2 separate regions of the Homo sapiens genome follow, and region 2 is linked to region 1. The links come from fine-mapping of genetic effects on gene expression. Tissue or cell type: prefrontal cortex. Region 1 holds a variant in brackets; the other region holds the start of a gene. All regions are shown on one strand. Distances are from middle to middle.

The links. PIP is the estimated chance that this variant, and not a neighbour inherited with it, causes the effect.
Region 2: it holds the start of LINC02700, and the variant in region 1 is fine-mapped to the expression of LINC02700 in prefrontal cortex (CommonMind, PIP 0.95).

Annotation. Positions count from the first base shown.
Region 1 is chr11:94,736,557-94,744,662 of GRCh38, forward strand. It overlaps PIWIL4-AS1 (PIWIL4 antisense RNA 1), which reads right to left and starts at 3,799. Exons shown (of 5, transcript NR_135093.1): 1 at 3,662-3,799. It also overlaps a transcript of AMOTL1 not described here. The variant C/T (reference allele first, on the strand shown) is at 3,695.
Region 2 is chr11:94,634,021-94,642,126 of GRCh38, forward strand. LINC02700 (long intergenic non-protein coding RNA 2700) reads left to right here and starts at 4,023. Exons shown (of 6, transcript NR_187352.1): 1 at 4,023-4,333. All of the region lies in intron 4 of PIWIL4-AS1 (PIWIL4 antisense RNA 1), which reads right to left. RefSeq lists a silencer at 1-50 and an enhancer at 5,995-6,494.

The sequences.
Region 1 (8,106 bases):
ATGAATATTTATTATGTACCTATGTGTGCTAGACACTGTGCCTGGTCTGTCTCATACCTTACCTATTTCGCTGCTCCTAACAATCCAGTGAGGTATGTATTATTGTTAGGAAACTGAAAATGCCTGCCACCCAATATTCACAGAGCTGAGATGCAAATCCGTAAACTTGTGCACTGTTTATTATAACTCAGTGACACTCCAGCAGAACCATTTCTTTATAAGAGACCTATAAAAGTCAAGTGTGGGTAGGCACTTTGGACATTGCCCTGAGATTCAATAAGGTCTGTCATGGAATCCCTTATTAGAAGGGCACTGATCATCTCTGTGTCTGCAGTGCCTTGCACAGCGCTGGAAGCATGGTAAATTCCCAATAAATGTTTGTTTAATTAATATGAAACATTATTGTTGGCTCTATTCTACTTCCTAAGATAGAAAATTGGAATCATTGACTTTAGAGAATTTTCAACAGCAAATACTGAAACAAGAGAAATGTTTTCTCATTAACCCTCAGTTGATTAGGAAATTCAAATAACTAAAATGTTGTAAGGATAGTTCCTAGTTTACAAGTCATCCATTTATATGAACAAATTGAAGGCAAGTCCATTGTGAGAACAGTTTGGCAGGCTCCAGAACCTAATCACCCTGTGGAGCACTGGCAACGCTCTTCATAGGGGTAAACCTGTTGCCAGCTCCAAGTAACCAGCCTTCAAGCCAACTCTTGGAATGCAAACTAAAAGTTGGAGACAACGAACATTCCTCTAATGTAAACATACTCTGTGGTTAATATCTTCTTTTAGTAACTCAAAATTGTTAAGGGATAAAAAGAGTCCATTTGTGTCAGCTGTAAAGGAGCATGGCATCCAATAATAACTAATGTTTATTTGACTTTTACAGTGTGACACTCTCTCTCCTAGGGGCTCCAAGTGCATTAGTTTATTGCACTCTCACCACATTGGTATGCTAGGTATGATTATTATCTCCATGTTTACACAAAGCTAAGGCTGAAAGAAATTAAGTTACTAGCTAGTATTGGAACAGGTATTAGAACCCAGGTCTGGCTGATCCCAAGGCCTTCTATAGGTCACCTCTCTTGAGACACAAATGTTATTTGCTTGATTCTATGGGAAACCAGAGGAGACTGATTCTGCAGACAGCCCATCTGAGCCCATCCACTCATAAGATCAGCAGGTCAAAACCTGCTGTTAGGATCTAGGACTGATAATTGGAATTGGCAATGGCAAAGCCATTCTTGACCTTGACAAGAGCTACTCTGGCAGAGTGAGGTAGAAACCTATTTAGGCTGCTTGTAAGAGCAAAATGGAGAATGGGTGCTATCAGTGTAGACAATTATTTTAATGAATTTTGTTGTAAAGGGGAGATGAGAATTGGAGTAATGGCTGGAGATACATAGAGTCAAGAAAGGATTTTTAAAAAGACAGGATCATAGTAGTATGTCTGTATACTGACAGGAGTGATCAAGGACAGAAGAAAATATTAATCCAGGTGGGAAGAGGGAAAAGCCACATAAATGGGATCTGATCCATACAGGAGGCCATAATGGCCTTAGATGATTCATCCATAGCAACAAGAGAGCGGGAGAGTAAATAAACAGGCAAATGCAGAGTGATTGCTGGGCTGCACTAGCTCCATTTGATTTTAGTGGACATGAATCGAAAATAAGACCAGAGAGCATAATTTTGTGCTTTTTTTTTTTTTTTTGAGACGGAGTCTTGCTCTGTCACCCAGGCTGGACTGCAATGGCGTGATCTCTGCTCACTGCAACCTCCACCTCCTGGTATCAAGCGATTCTCCTGCCTCAGCCTCCTGAGTAGCTGGGATTACAGACATGTGCCACCACACTTGGCTAATTTTTGTATTTTTACTAGAGATGGGTTTTCACCATGTTGGCCAGGCTGGTCTCAAATTCAGGACCTCAGGTGATCCACCCACCTCAGCCTCCCAGAGTGCTGGAAATATAGATGTGAGCCACCATGCCCAGCCAATTTTGTGCTTCTTCAATCATGTTTAGCTGGGTGTAGATGGAAAGAAGGTGGAGAGTTATATTTTACTAGGGTTGTGTTTTCACCAGGTAAATAGCATGGAAAGAGAGCAGAACATGGATTTGAAGGTGTAAGTAAGAGAGAAATAATAATGAAACTGGAAACTAAAGTCCATAAGGAAGGAAGGAGGGTCATGAGGAGAGTGAGGGGCAGAGAAAAGGTCATGGATAAGTAAATTATAGATGCTGGTGGGGTCAAGGACACATTGGATTAAAATAACAGAGGGGATAAGCTGGAAAGGTAGGAGAGTGGATTACTTCACCTTGATATTATGCATGGTGTCGCTATGACAGCAGGGGGCTGGTGTGGTTGGAGCAGGTCAAGAAAGGGATAAGATGCAGAAGAGTTGAGAGATCAGAGTGTGACTATGTAGATGGAGAAAAATAAGAATAATCACAGGAATGATACTGGGAAAAGTGACAGTGAATCAGATGCCATTATCTTCAAGAAATGAGGTAGAACAACCAGAGGATCCATAGATGGCTGAAATAAGTAGAGGAGGCAAGTAATGCAGCCTGTTATTTTCAAGGAAAGCCAGGTATGGGTCAGAGCACAACACTGAAAGAAACATTCAGAGAGGAGGCTGAGGATATATAGATTTTGCTAGCGATGAACCATGAGTTCCAGAGGACAAATGGGAGGATTCTAGGAGTTGGGAGGGGATGGAGTGATGAGTGCAAACCCTCACCCAAACATATTTAATTCCTGGATTTGGGAGCTCAGATTATAAGAAGCAGGAAAAAGAAGAGGTTGGAGAGATAGGCTCAGCAGCTCAAGAATGCTGCCTTGCTTGGGGAGGACAGCCCCACCCCTGCTTCCCTGGGCTCCCTAAGCAATGCTGGCCGAAGGGGCTTTCTGTCCTTCATGGTGATTTGTAAACCAAAAACTGACAGTGGAAAAGCCAGAGATGGCTGAGTGTTTACAGGATGAGAGCACATTGGCTCAGATCGGGGCCCTTAGGCTGCTGCAGCTGGTGCTCTGATCACTTTGAGACAATAGAAGGCCCCCAGGAGGCTGCCCAGACTGTTGACCCTCCAATAGTCCTCCAAGGATGGAGAAAGGACAACCATTTCCATACTTGTTCCTTCCTTCCCACTGACCCTGTTATGGGCCATCAGCTGCGGGGCTCTCTCTGGAGCACACCCCAAGTCCAGCACCCTCGCCCCCTTAATGCAGAGCAGTCACAGTCAGTCCTGGGGGCTGGGGGGAGATACATAACACATCTGTCCAAGTTATCAGGCTACTGACTCAGAGGGGGAGGTTCTCACAGTGTTACATTAATTATTTTAGAATTTACAGTTCTCAGAGCATAACCATTGCTTCTACATTCTGTATTTGAAAGCAGTCAATCTTTTATAGAGTAGAAGGAGCACTGCTCTTCTCTCCTCCCCCACTTCTCCCTCACATACCCCTACCATAATGATGTCACGCATAAATTAACAACTTCTCAGCCTCGGTTTCCCAACCTGTGCAATGCAGCTCATATTACTTTGCCCACTTGAGCCAGGTGATCTCTTGAAGAGTAGGAAATAATGTTGGACTGGAGTTGGAATTCTGGTTCCAAAAGGAGGGGATTGGGGGGCATTTGGGTCTCCTCCTACCTTTCTGCAAGCTCTGAAAATCGTCCATCTCCT[C/T]AGGAGAAGCCCACAGAACAAACGATTTCCCAAGCATCAGAGGAGGGCAGACATAACATAACAGAGCAGGGAATCGGGTTAGAACGGGTTATGCTCTGATTTTTTGGAAAATGGGCAAACGGGGCGGGGACTAGGGAGGATTCCGCCAGCCGGGAGTTGGGAGGCCGCGCGCGCCTCTGCGGAGCGTGACGGCCACGGTCGCCTAGCAACGAGCGGGGATGCGCGGGGCGCCTGGGTGGGCGAGGGGTGCTCGCCGCCGCCGCCGCGCGCCCTCGGGCCCCCGGGACCGCGGGAAAACTTCGCGGCTCCTCGGCGCTGGGGCGTCGGCGCCAGGCCCGGCAGACAGAGCAATGCGCCCCGCGGGCTGAGGGCAGAGGATGCGGCCGCGGCCCAGCGCCCGGCCGGGGGAGCCGCGGGGTGGCACGCGGGGAAAGTTGGCGCGCGCCTGACCGCGCCTGGAAGCCGCGCGGTGCCAGGGCCGAGTTGTCCCCCAAGTTTCTGCGGCGATTTGTCACTCCCTGGGGATCTGGCGGTCTGAATCCCGCGGGGCCTCCGGCTCAGGGATTCTGAGCGCTGGGAGAGAGAAGCCCGCGCTTTTCCCGGGGACCTGCGCTTGAGCTGGTGCTTGTGCGGGTTCGTCCTGAATGGTAGCGATTCGAGTTGTTTTCTGCTTTTCTTCTCCCCCAGACAGTGAGTTTGTGGAAGCCTCGCCCGCATCCTACAGCCCAGACGAGTTAGGTAAGTCTGCTCATTTTGTCTTTTATTTCTTGGTCGCAATTCTGCCCGAGAACTGCGAGTTTGGGGGGCGTCCATAGGAACTCAGCTAGGGATGGGGCTGGGGTTGGAGGGCGGAGGGAAAGGGTCAGGGGACACCTGCTGCCTTCGCGGCCGGAACCGGCCTTTCCTCGGCGCTGTGCTTTCGGGGGTGGCAGGGCAAGTGTCCAATGAGCCGTGCGTGTGTGTGTGTGTGCGTGCGTGTGCGTGTGTGTGTGTGTGAGTGCGTGTGTGTGCGTGTTCGTCTGGGGCAGTGGTGCTGCTCCGAGGAGCCTGGCACAGCAAACTTCCAGAGCTGGGGCTTCTGAAACCTGCGCTCATCTTGCCGGGAGGACACAGCGGCGACTGGTTCTGACTTGCCAAGTACCTGGCACGAGAAGGACGTCGTGTGGGTCGTCCTTACCCTGAATTTAATGAAGTCAGGGGCTGAAAACGGCGGTGTAATCATTAAACTGTAAGACCTAGGAGCTGCTTCCCTCCCTGATTTCTATTCCTCAGTTAGCCTGTAGGTGTCTCGAGATAGGACATTCCATCCTCATGCCTGTCATGGTAAGTGGAGATTTGCGATGGGTGAACCGGGACACTCTTGTCAAGAGACAGGCTGAAGAGAGAGTGAAGAGAAGGAAATGCGAATGGGCAGGATCTCTCTAACTCTTCCTGCCACCCATTCTCACTCGGTGGCTTAGTGGCTCTCTTTTTTTTTTCTTCTGCTTTCAAGGTTAGTTTAGCTGCTACTGGTCTGGGCTATCAAGTCTCTCCTTACTGTTCTTTCATCACTAGCCTGAATATCTTGCCTTCCTAAGATGAAATGAAAGGATTTATTTTATGATATATGTTGACAGTAAAGGAGGAGGGGAACTGTCCACAAACAGCGGTTTAAATATGTTTATCCTCAGTAACACACTCAGCTGTGGCACCCTGTCCCTGGTCAGCTTCTTGTGCTGGGAAGAATGTCCTCATCAAGTCCCACAGGACCTGAAGCAAAATTCCACCTCAACAACGACTTTCATTCATTTCTAGGAGCCAAGCGCCCAAAATAGATCTGGATCAAGGTTGGCATTCTGTGGCTGGGAGGAGTACCATGTTTTATTCAGAGGATGTGTTTCTGACAAGTTGCGAGGCAATCACATCTCTATCAGTGGAATTGTAGACTAAATGCATGAGCAAAACTAGCTTTTAAGACATACTGTGGTGAATCATTTTATGAAATGAAAGTGACATCTAAACCATAGCTTTTCATGATGTGATTTATTAAGAGGACAGGTACTCGATGATCTGCTCCACGCATGTATAATTGTATGTTAATGACACCAGCATTGACACTCCACAGTGCGACGAAGCCATTTGGTCCTCTTAAATTGTACATAAACATAAGCAATGGTAGGATGAGCATTGCTTGCTCTGGGAAATCAGACTGTATAACTACTAAATTGTTTGCCTTCACAGAATGATTTGTGCTTCAGGAAGGCCCAGGTATTTGACCCTTTTTCATCTCCATATCTCCCTCTGGGACTTACAGACTGGACTGCCCCCATGAGGCACTGATAAATATGAGTATCCTTTCAAATTAGCAGTAGAAAATAAAAAACAATGTTTTTTTCTCTTCAGCTCCCCTATGGTAAAAGCCCAGTTTCTCATGAGGAGATTAGAGTGTGTGTCTTAGTCCATTTGTGTTGTTATATCAAAAACAGATTGGGTAGTTTGTAAACAGCAGAAATTTATTTCTCACAAGTTCTGGAGGCTGGGAATTCTAAGATCAAGAAACTGGCAGGTTCAGTGTCTGGTGAGGGCCTGCTTCCTGGTTCATAGATGTCTATCTTCTCACTGTGTCCTCAACATGGCAGAAAAGGGCCAGGGAGCTCTTGCGGTCTCTTTTCTAAGTGCCCTAATCCCTCTGGTGAGAGCTCCACCCTTATGACCTAATCACTTCCCAAAGGCCTCACCTCCAAATACCATCACATTGAGGATTAGGTTTCAATACATGAATTTTGAGGGGATATAAATATTCAGTCTATAGCAGCGTGATGGGAACCATGGGGTTCCCTTCTGGGATCTGGGCTTGCAGGGTGATAGAGAAAATAAAACAGAAGCCTGAGAGTTTGAGATCAAGGTTCTAGCTTTCACCCTGCTCCAGCTTCTTTAATAGACATGTTAACTAGCCTCAGTTTCCTTATCTGCAAAAAGCGGGGGTTGTGCCCGGGGATCCCTAAGGCGTCTTCCAGTTCTATTTTCACCTCTTAAAGTGCTGTGAGGGGCTGTAAGCCAAAGGAGGCCTATAGCCATTGGGTATTCATTGTTTATATTCATGTGCTGTGCTGTTTGGGTACTTGGTGTCCCCAAGGGTTATTCTCTCCATGACAGGGCAGCTCTCTGGATCAGACTGCCTTGTTTTCATGCTATTCAGGTCAAAGACGGAGCTGTCATTTCTCCCTTGGAAAGAGTCATGGTGGTTTTTTGGTGCTTTTCTTAGACACACAGCAGGAAAAATGCCTTTTACAGCAGTTGATGAGCTTGTCAAGCAGCCATTCTTTCGGGAGCACAGATGAGCACAGGTTCACTCCTGGCCGGAATATAAGAAGAAGCAGAGCAAAGTTAAAAGAAAATTATTTCTCTACTCACAATACTTCTTTTTTTTTTTTTTTTTTTTTTTTTGTGACGGTGTCTCGCTCTGTCGCCCAGATGGGAGTGCAATGGCATGATCTCGGCTTACTGCAACCTCTGTCTCCTGGGTTCAACCTATTCTCCTGCCTCAGCCTCCCAACTAGCTGGGATTACAGGTGCCCGCCACCATGCCCAGCTAATTTTTGGAAATTTAGTAGAGACAGGGTTTTGCCATGTTAGCCAGGCTGGTCTCGAACTCCTGACCTCTGGTGATCTGCCCTCTTCTGTCGGCCTCCCAAAGTGCTAGGATTACAGGCGTGAGCCACTGTGCCTGGCCTGTACTCACAATACTTCTGACACCCAATGTGTGGGTTTTCCACACCAAGTAATTCTTAAATATTTTGCAGCCACCAACCAGATGTCCTAGAATTTAATTAAATTTTACCACTACCCAGAGTTAGCACAGGCCCTATAGGTTAAGAGCTCAGTCCTGCAAGACTATCTACCACTTCAGATATCAACGGCAAGTGGTGGGTCCACATATTACCCACACTTATGTCTAACTTGGCTACAAATCAGGGCTTCCTACAACCTTCTTTTGGTTTCTATAATTTACTTTAATAGCTTAGAGAACTCAGGGAAGCACTATGCTTATGTTTACCAGGTTATTTTAAAGGATATAAATGAACAGCTGGATGAGGAGATGCAAAAGGTGAAGTCTGGAAGGGTCCAAAGCACAGGAGCTTCTGTCCTTTTAGAGTTGGGGTGCACCACCCTCCTGGCACATGGATAGGTTCACTAAGTCAGAAACTCTCCATACCTCCTCATTTAGGGTTTTTATGGATGTTCCATTAGGCATGATTGATTGAATCATTGGCCATGGGTGATTAACTCAATCCCCAGTCCCTTTCCCCTCCCCAGAGGTCAGGTATGTGTGTGGCAGGGTGGAGGGGTAGTAGGTGGGGAAGTGGGGAGAATAGGTCGGTGGGCTGGAAATTCCAACTTTTTTTTTCCTCAATGTAATTTTTGTTAATGTA
Region 2 (8,106 bases), 100 kb before region 1:
ATTAAAATCCCAGAAACAAATTGCTGCATATATGAATCTGTCATTTAGTAGAATTGGCATTACAGTTGAAAGGATGAACTACTTAATAAAAGATACTGGGATAGCTAGGTTTCATATAGAAAGAAAATTAGACTCCTAGCTCACATGAAAAACAAAAAGAGACTTCATGTAGCTTAAAGAAAACATGAAAAAGAATTGCAACAACTAGAAGAAAATATAGGGAATATCTTTAAGATATTAAAGTAGGGGAAAATTTCTTAAGCAATATAGAAAAAGTATAAATTATACAGGAAAAGACTGATGACTTTGTCAAAATGTAAACTTCTGAATGACAAATGAGACAGTAGTAATGCTAAAAGACAAACTGTAGGCTAAAACAGTATATGTGTAACATACACAACAAGAAAAGGATGATTAACCCAAATATGCAAAAACAAAAAAAGTTTAAGTTAGTAAGAAAAACAGACAAAAACACCCAGTAGAAAAAAGGGCCCAAGAGCAATTCACTAACAAATATCTAAGATGATACTCAACTTCACCAGTAGTAATAAGGAAAATTAAAAATAAAACACCAATGAGATTTAATTTCACTCTTATACATTCGGAAAAAATTAAACTATCTGTCAGTAATAACTGTTGTTGAGAATGCAGAGAAACAAACTCTTAAACATTGCTGCTAGGAGCATGAACCGGTTCAATCATATCTGGAAGCCCATATCCTACAAACCAGCAATTCTACCTTGAGGTTTATACTTCAGAGAATTTCTTGCACCTGTCTATAAGAAGAAAATGGATAAACTATACTGTAGGCATACTACAGAATACCATATAGCAATGAAAAGAAATTAACTGGCTCAGACTATGTAGATCTACATGAATAGTTATCAAAAAAAAAAAAAGGTTAAGTGAAAAAAAATCAAGTTAAAGAATGATGGGTACATCATGCTGTCACTGAAACCAAATGGGGTCTGTTTGCCCATGTGCAGTGGAAAGCCAACACCGAAGCACTGGGTTTTTGCTGTGAGAAAGGTTAATCGCAAGTCCACTGGCCACATGAGAGGAGGAAATGCTCAAATGTCTCCCTGAGCTGGGGGTGGGTCAGATTTTAAAATGGGTAATAAGGCATGATCTGATTGGATCTGGCAGTGAGGTGAGGCCAGGACGCATGCTCTGGCTGGATCCTGCCATGCTGTGTCTGCTGCTTCTTAATTCAGTCCTGCTCCTTCATCCCAGCACTTAGGTTCCCCTTGTGGTTGCACATTTGGTTCATCTGGGCATGCTCAGATTATGTGCCCTTTAACCTGGGGGTCCATGGCAACTGAAAAACAACTCACAACTTTGTCACATAAAAGTTGAACCAGTTGGTCTGATGTGCTTACAATGTCATTCATAGACAAGAATTAACATACATGTAAATACCACATATTTCCCTGGTTTTATAGGCGTGTGTGTACATACATATAAAAGGAAAAAGTGGAAATGGAAGATTGCACACTAAATTCATGACAGTGGTTACATCTATGAGGCAGGGAGGGTTGTGAATTATAGGTAAGGATGCTCAATAAAGGGAATTTGACTATAATTCTATTAGTTTTCTTAAAAAATGAAACAAATACAAAAATGATAACAACTGTCAATTCTGGGTTGATGATATTTGCATCTTTGTCTTATTTTTTTTTTCTGTAATTTAAAAGTTTACCAAACTTAAAATTATAATTAAAACAAAAGCAGACAACTCCAATCTAACCATGAGAAAAATATCAGAAAAATATCCGTTTAAGGAAAGTCTACAAAACACTTGTCGAGGTCAAGAAAGACAAGAAAAGACTGAGAAACTGTCACAGCCAAGATAGGCCTAAGGAGACATGGTAATTAAATATAATATATCTTGGATCCGATCTTGGAATAGAAAAAGAGCAATGAATAATAATTAAGGAAATCTGAATGAGGTATGGATTTTTGATAACAGTAACATATAAATATTAGTACATTAACTGTTACAAAGGCAGTGTACTAATATAAGACAATAATAGGGAAAACTGGGTGTAGGGTATATGTGAACACTTTGTCCTATCTTGGCAACTTTTCTTTAAATCTAAAATTATTGTAAGATAAAAAAGTATGTAAAAAACGGAATAGGTATAGTATTCTTCCAGTTTCGTGTGAGTGTGTGTGAGTGTACACAAAAAGACAAGCAGAATATTTATCAAAAATATCAATGATTAGGTCTACATGGTGGAAGTATGGGTAGCTTTCCTTTCTCTTTCATTCTTTTATTTTTCAAATTCCTGCCTTCTAATATAAGTCAAATGTGATATACTGATAGTTTTAGCTATCAGAAACATTATCAAGACCTTGGCACCGTTTCTATCAGCACATGGTAATTATGGGCCCCATTCTCCTAACACTCACTTCCTATATTTGCCCGGGATGCTTGCTAAAACTGAGTTCTATACTAAGAATTTCCAGGGAAGAAACTTGAGAATTTATTTTTTAACAAGTCCCTAGGTGATTTTTGTGTGTGTTTGTGTCTGGTGGCTGTTCAGATAAGTTTAGGAAACTGACTCAGCTAATTCTCACTTAAAGCTCAGCTCAGTGTCAGCTCTGCTGTCAAAACTTCTCTGTCCATCTCAGGCACTTAGAATCTCCCTTCCCTGTATCCTCCCTGTACCACACACACAACTCCATTCCTGCCCTTCTAACAGTGCAGCATAGTTTTTTCTACATTTTTCTCTCTGGCTGTTTTGCATATCTTTGTGATCTCATCGAACAATAGCATCTGGTAGGCCCTCAATATCCATTATTTAGATAAATGCATGGAAGCTTAGATAGTCAGATGGGCTGCTTTTAAATAAATGGGGTGATTCTAAGAATTTCATCAGCATCTATCTTCAAGCCCCTCAATAATGGCATCCCTGGTTGCTTTACAATAGGTGGGATCAGCCTCTTTTATTATCTCTTTAGAAGGAAGCATGGGAATATTCAATTTATTCCAAAATATATTGCTTTACGCTTGGATAATGGTCAGAAAAACTGGAAGTATGAATATATATTTGAATCATCTGGGAATCTATTGAAACCCAAACTTGCATTTGATGAGTAGTGCTTACCCTGGGCCAGGCCACTCAGTGCTTGAGCTGTGCTATCTAAGATGGAGGCTCTAATCACATGTGGCCTTTGAAGGCTACATTTAAAGTAATTGAAATCAATCCAGTTCCTCAGTCATACATTTCAAGTACTCAAAGGCCACACGTAGCAGCCACTGTATTGGAAAGTGAAGACATAGAACATTTCCATCATCACAGAAAGTTCTATAGGAGAGTGCTGACCTAGATGATTCCTCTTTATACTTCGAATCAGATAGTTCTCTTATTTAAGGCTTCCCTCATCCCTCCAAGCCATATTCTGTTTGGTTCGCAGTGACAGAAATGTCCTGGGCACCAGGGATTCAGAGATGAAGAAAATGTCATTGCTGCCCTGGAACAGCTTAAAGCAGGGACTCTCAACTGGGGCGATTTTGCTGCCTAGGGGACATTTGGCAGAGACTTTGTATTGCCATTAATAGTGTGGGGGGTATGTGTGTGTCTGTGTTCATGTGTGTGTTGTGTGTGTCTGTGTCATATGTGTGTATGTGTGTGTGTGTATTACTGGCAGACAGAGGGCAGCGATCCTGGGTAGAGGGCAGAGATGATGCTAAGCATTCTACAACGCACAAGACGGCTCCCCCTCCCTACCATCAAAAATTTGGCCCAAAATGTCAATAATGCCAAAGCTGAGAAACCCTGGCTTGAAGCCTTGTTGGGGAGAGAGACACAGGAGCACAAAGTACCAATGTCATGTGGAAAGTGAGCAGAGAGTGGTAGAGCACAGCCGTCGGACTGGGAGGATTCCCAAGCTGAGTCTGGAAGGAGCTGCATGCCTAGTCATTCCTTCTATGATCTAATAATGCTTTGCCCATTCCCCTCTGCAACACCTAACACTGTGATGTATTTTAACCATCAGTTTACACATACTTCTCTCCTGTGAGACTGTGAATTCTTCAAAAGCAGGTACTGTGTTTAATGAAGTGTGCCCAGGACTTTGCTCAGTGACTGGATGACACAGTAGGAGTAACAAGAAAGTTCACATGGGTGAACCGTGGTAGGTGGACATCGTCTCTCTCACCTCTTCCCAAATCAAGGATGAAGTACATCTTCATAAATCCTCATGTGAATTATTTTGCTACCTCTAGAAGCATTTTCTAAAACAAGGTGCAGCAATCAGTTGAGTGAATTTGTCACCAGAGCTTATGTTTTCTGAAAGAACCCTATCCTCAGGCAGTTGTTCCTAAGAGGTGAGTTGTGGATTTAGTTCACATACCTTCCTTCGTGGCTTAAAATGCTCCACATGCCTGTCTCCCCAACAGCATCAGATCACCATGCAGTAAAATACCAAGTCAGAACAGCCAATGCTGAAAAGAGTGACAGTTTCCTTTCATGATGCAATGCACTTGGAGCCAGGGGACAGGGAGACAATAACTGCAAGGAGAAGTGATGACAACCCTACTTTAATATAGTAGTTCCTTTTGAATTTTATAGACTTACCCGTTAATCTCTAGAATTTTGAAAAAATTCCTTAAGTGATGTGAGCAAATAACACTTTGCCTTGGGTTAGCCTTTTCCTTTCCCTTGAAGATTCCACAAATATGTCAGCGCTGGAAATGATCCTTTGGCTTTGAACTATGTGAAGACTGCAGAAGGACTGGTTGGTAAGCACCCACATCCTGGGGTGAGAATCACATCCAGTTTATACCTCCCTGTGCACACTTGTATAAAACAACTATAAGACACACGAGAGATCTGGAAGCCAGTTCCTCATAAGTAAGAATTGGTAAGAGCTCTTAAGCAGCATGTCTGAGGTTTAATAACTCGCCCTGTCTGGAGCCTTTTGTGTGTCTCACTTTCTTCTTAGCAAAACATGAGCATTACACTCTGTGCTGGAAGATTCCCTTCCTTCTTCCGGGCTTTTGATTACCCAATCCTTCTTTACTTTCACTTCTTGCTCAAAGCAGCTCTTTCTCAGCCATTTCTAAAAAAGGTTTATGAGATGCTGCAGGGCTGTGTCTCTAAATTGGGCCCTGTGTGCCTATATCCTCATTCTCTGCAGCTGCTGAATTCTTTCTGTGGGATCAGCCTTCTTCTAAGTGCTGGGGTGATGGGAACATAGCTGTAAACTGATTTTGACAGGAAGCATCACTTCCGGCTGGAAACAAGTCCCTGGTTTATGCAGCACATAGTACTAACTGTGGAACACTGTTAAACATGTCTCATTCCGCCCCCTCCACCAGCAAAAGGCCTTGCTGCTCAGTTGTGCACCAGATGATGTGGCATATGCACATACTGGCCACTAATGACAAAGCCTGACACCATGCAGTGGACATCTCTTGGGACCTCAGCCTCTTTCTCCTGGAACTGACCCCATCCTCCCTTCGCTACATGATCACCATGGGTGGATTCCCAGCAGCCATGCTTGTAACATGCATCCTGTCCTCTCTGGCCACAGACAACTACAATACAGATGAGCAGCCCACCCAAGATTCCTTCTCTAAGAATTTAGAACTGGGAATGGAGGAGAGAAAGAGAGAGATACTGATTCTACCAGAGACAATGGGATGAGATAGCATGGTTGTTGGAACCATGGCTGGAACTGTAAAGCACAAATTGGACAGCAGATAAAGTTGGTTCACAGAGAGAGAGAGAATGATGAAGCCATAGGGATCCAAGTTTCCCTATGGCTTTCCTCACCCTAACTCCTGTCCTTCCACAGGTCAGGCTGCATTTGTATCCTGGGTCCACAAGACATCGTTTCCTTAAAACCAATCCCCCTGATTTTGCTAAGGTGAGTCGGAACAAGTTGATTTCTGTTACACACACAAACACACACCCCACATGAGACAGCCAGGTAGGAAGTGCTCCCTGGCAGAGCCTCCCTGACCTGCACACTGGGAGGAATGCACGCTGGGGTGGAGCCTTGGGAGGTTCGCGTGGTTTGCAGTGGGGAGGAGCCTGCCGCCCTCTTCCTGGGTGGAACCTGGGATTCAGTTCGCCAGGCAGGAAGTGCAGTAGCAGGACTCTGGCTTTCCGGAGAGTCTCTGTTTTTCCTTTTTTTTTTTCCCTTTTCGCCCAATAAATACCATTTTTCTCACCCTTCAAAGTGTCTGCAAGCCTAATATTTCATGGATGTTTGACAAGGACCCCGTCTTTAGCTGAACTAAGGAGAAAGTCCTGCAACACACACATGGAGCTCAGCAAACGGAGGATGTAGTAGGTAGAATTTTTAAATGGCCTCTATGATTTCTTTGCCTGGTATCCACATCTTTGTGTCATCCTCTCCCCTTCAGTTGTGGGAGGGATGTATAACTTGCTTCTGAAAAGTAGAATATAGTAAAGGTGAAGAAATCCTGCAGTTGAGGTGAAGTTAATGAAAAGGGAGATAATCCTGGGTGGGCCTGACCTAATCAGGTGAGTTCCTGGAGAATGTCAAGTAAGAAGCCTAGAGTCAGAGACTCACTCTTTCCTGTTAGCCTTGAAGAGGCAAGATGCTTCAGTTCTACAGCTGCAAGGAAATCAATTCTGACAACAACCACGTGTGCTTGGAAGACCACCACCACCATCACCACCACCACCACCCCCCGCCCCGCCCCTGCCCCTCTGAGCCTCAGATGGGACGCTAGACCCTCCCTGATTATAGTCTGCGAGACACTGAACCTGGACTCCTGGTCTATGGGAGCTGTTTTAAGTTTTAAGCTGTTAATTTTTGGTAATTAGTTATGCAGCAAATGGCTGTGTTGTTATTCCCATCCCCCTCTTCCCACCTGTCTCCTTTAAATAAAAACCAGCATTTCAGGTCTGAACTGTCATGACTCCAATCTGCTTGTCAAGATGGACTCTAAGTAGAGTCAGGTGAAGAGGCCAGGTTAGCTATATTCCTTCTTATTTTCCATCCTTCAGTCATGGCCTGAGCCTTTTCCTTCCCTGAAATCTAATGAGAATCACTCCTCAGCTGATTATCATGGACTCGATGGCTTGTCATTAAGAATACCTCAGCCACAGGCAGCAGTGAGAAGAGAAGTGAAGGAGGAGGGGTGTTTAGGAAATGCCTGGTCCTGAGGGCGGAAGCAGTTTTGAAGTTGCACCTGCTCTGACAGAAAACTCGAGTGTAAGACTTACTGATGTCATTCTCCTCAGTTCTTCATGGACGTAGGACTGTCATGGGGAAATTAGGCAAAGATTCTGCTTTGGCAGGAAGAACTATGGCTCCCTGCCCACATCCCTTCGTTCAGCTCCCTCCCCCATTGGCCAGAATACACCAAGTTGTCAGCACCAGCCGGCCCGTGGCTATTCAGAATGTCTCTGGAAACCATGAAGGCTAGGAGGCATGAGATCTGGGTGCTGGGGCTGGTGAGTCCTCTAGTAACCAACCCAACTGTAAAGAAGTAATAATATATGGCATCTGCATAATGGTCTACGGCTTCCAACTTGCTTTAAGCTCTATTTATCCTTTGGGTCTCTCATCAGCCCTGGAAGAAAAGCAGTTGTCTTTGTCAGGCCTCTGAGCCCAAGCTGAGCCATCATGTCCCCTGTGACCTGCACGTACACATCCAGATGGTGGGTTCCTGCCTTAACTGATGACATTCCACCACAAAAAAAGTGAAAATGGCCTGTTCCTGCCTTAACTGATGACATTGTCTTGTGAAATTCCTTCTCCTGGCTCATCCTGGCTCAAAAGCTCCCCCACTGAGTACCTTGTGACCCCCACTCCTGCCCGCCAGAGAACAACCCCCTTTGACTGTAATTTTCCTTTACCTACCCAAATCTTATAAAACGGCCCCACCCCTATCTGCCTTTGCTGACTCTCTTTTCGGACTCAGCCCGCGTGCACCCAGGTGATTAAAAGCTTTATTGCTCACACAAAGCCTGTTTGGTGGTCTCTTTACACAGACGCACATGAAATTTGGTGCTGTGACTCGGATTGGGGGACCTCCCTTGGGAGATCAATCCCCTGTCCTCCTGTTCTTTGCTCCATGGGAAAGATCCACCTACGACCTCAGGTCCTCAGACCGACCAG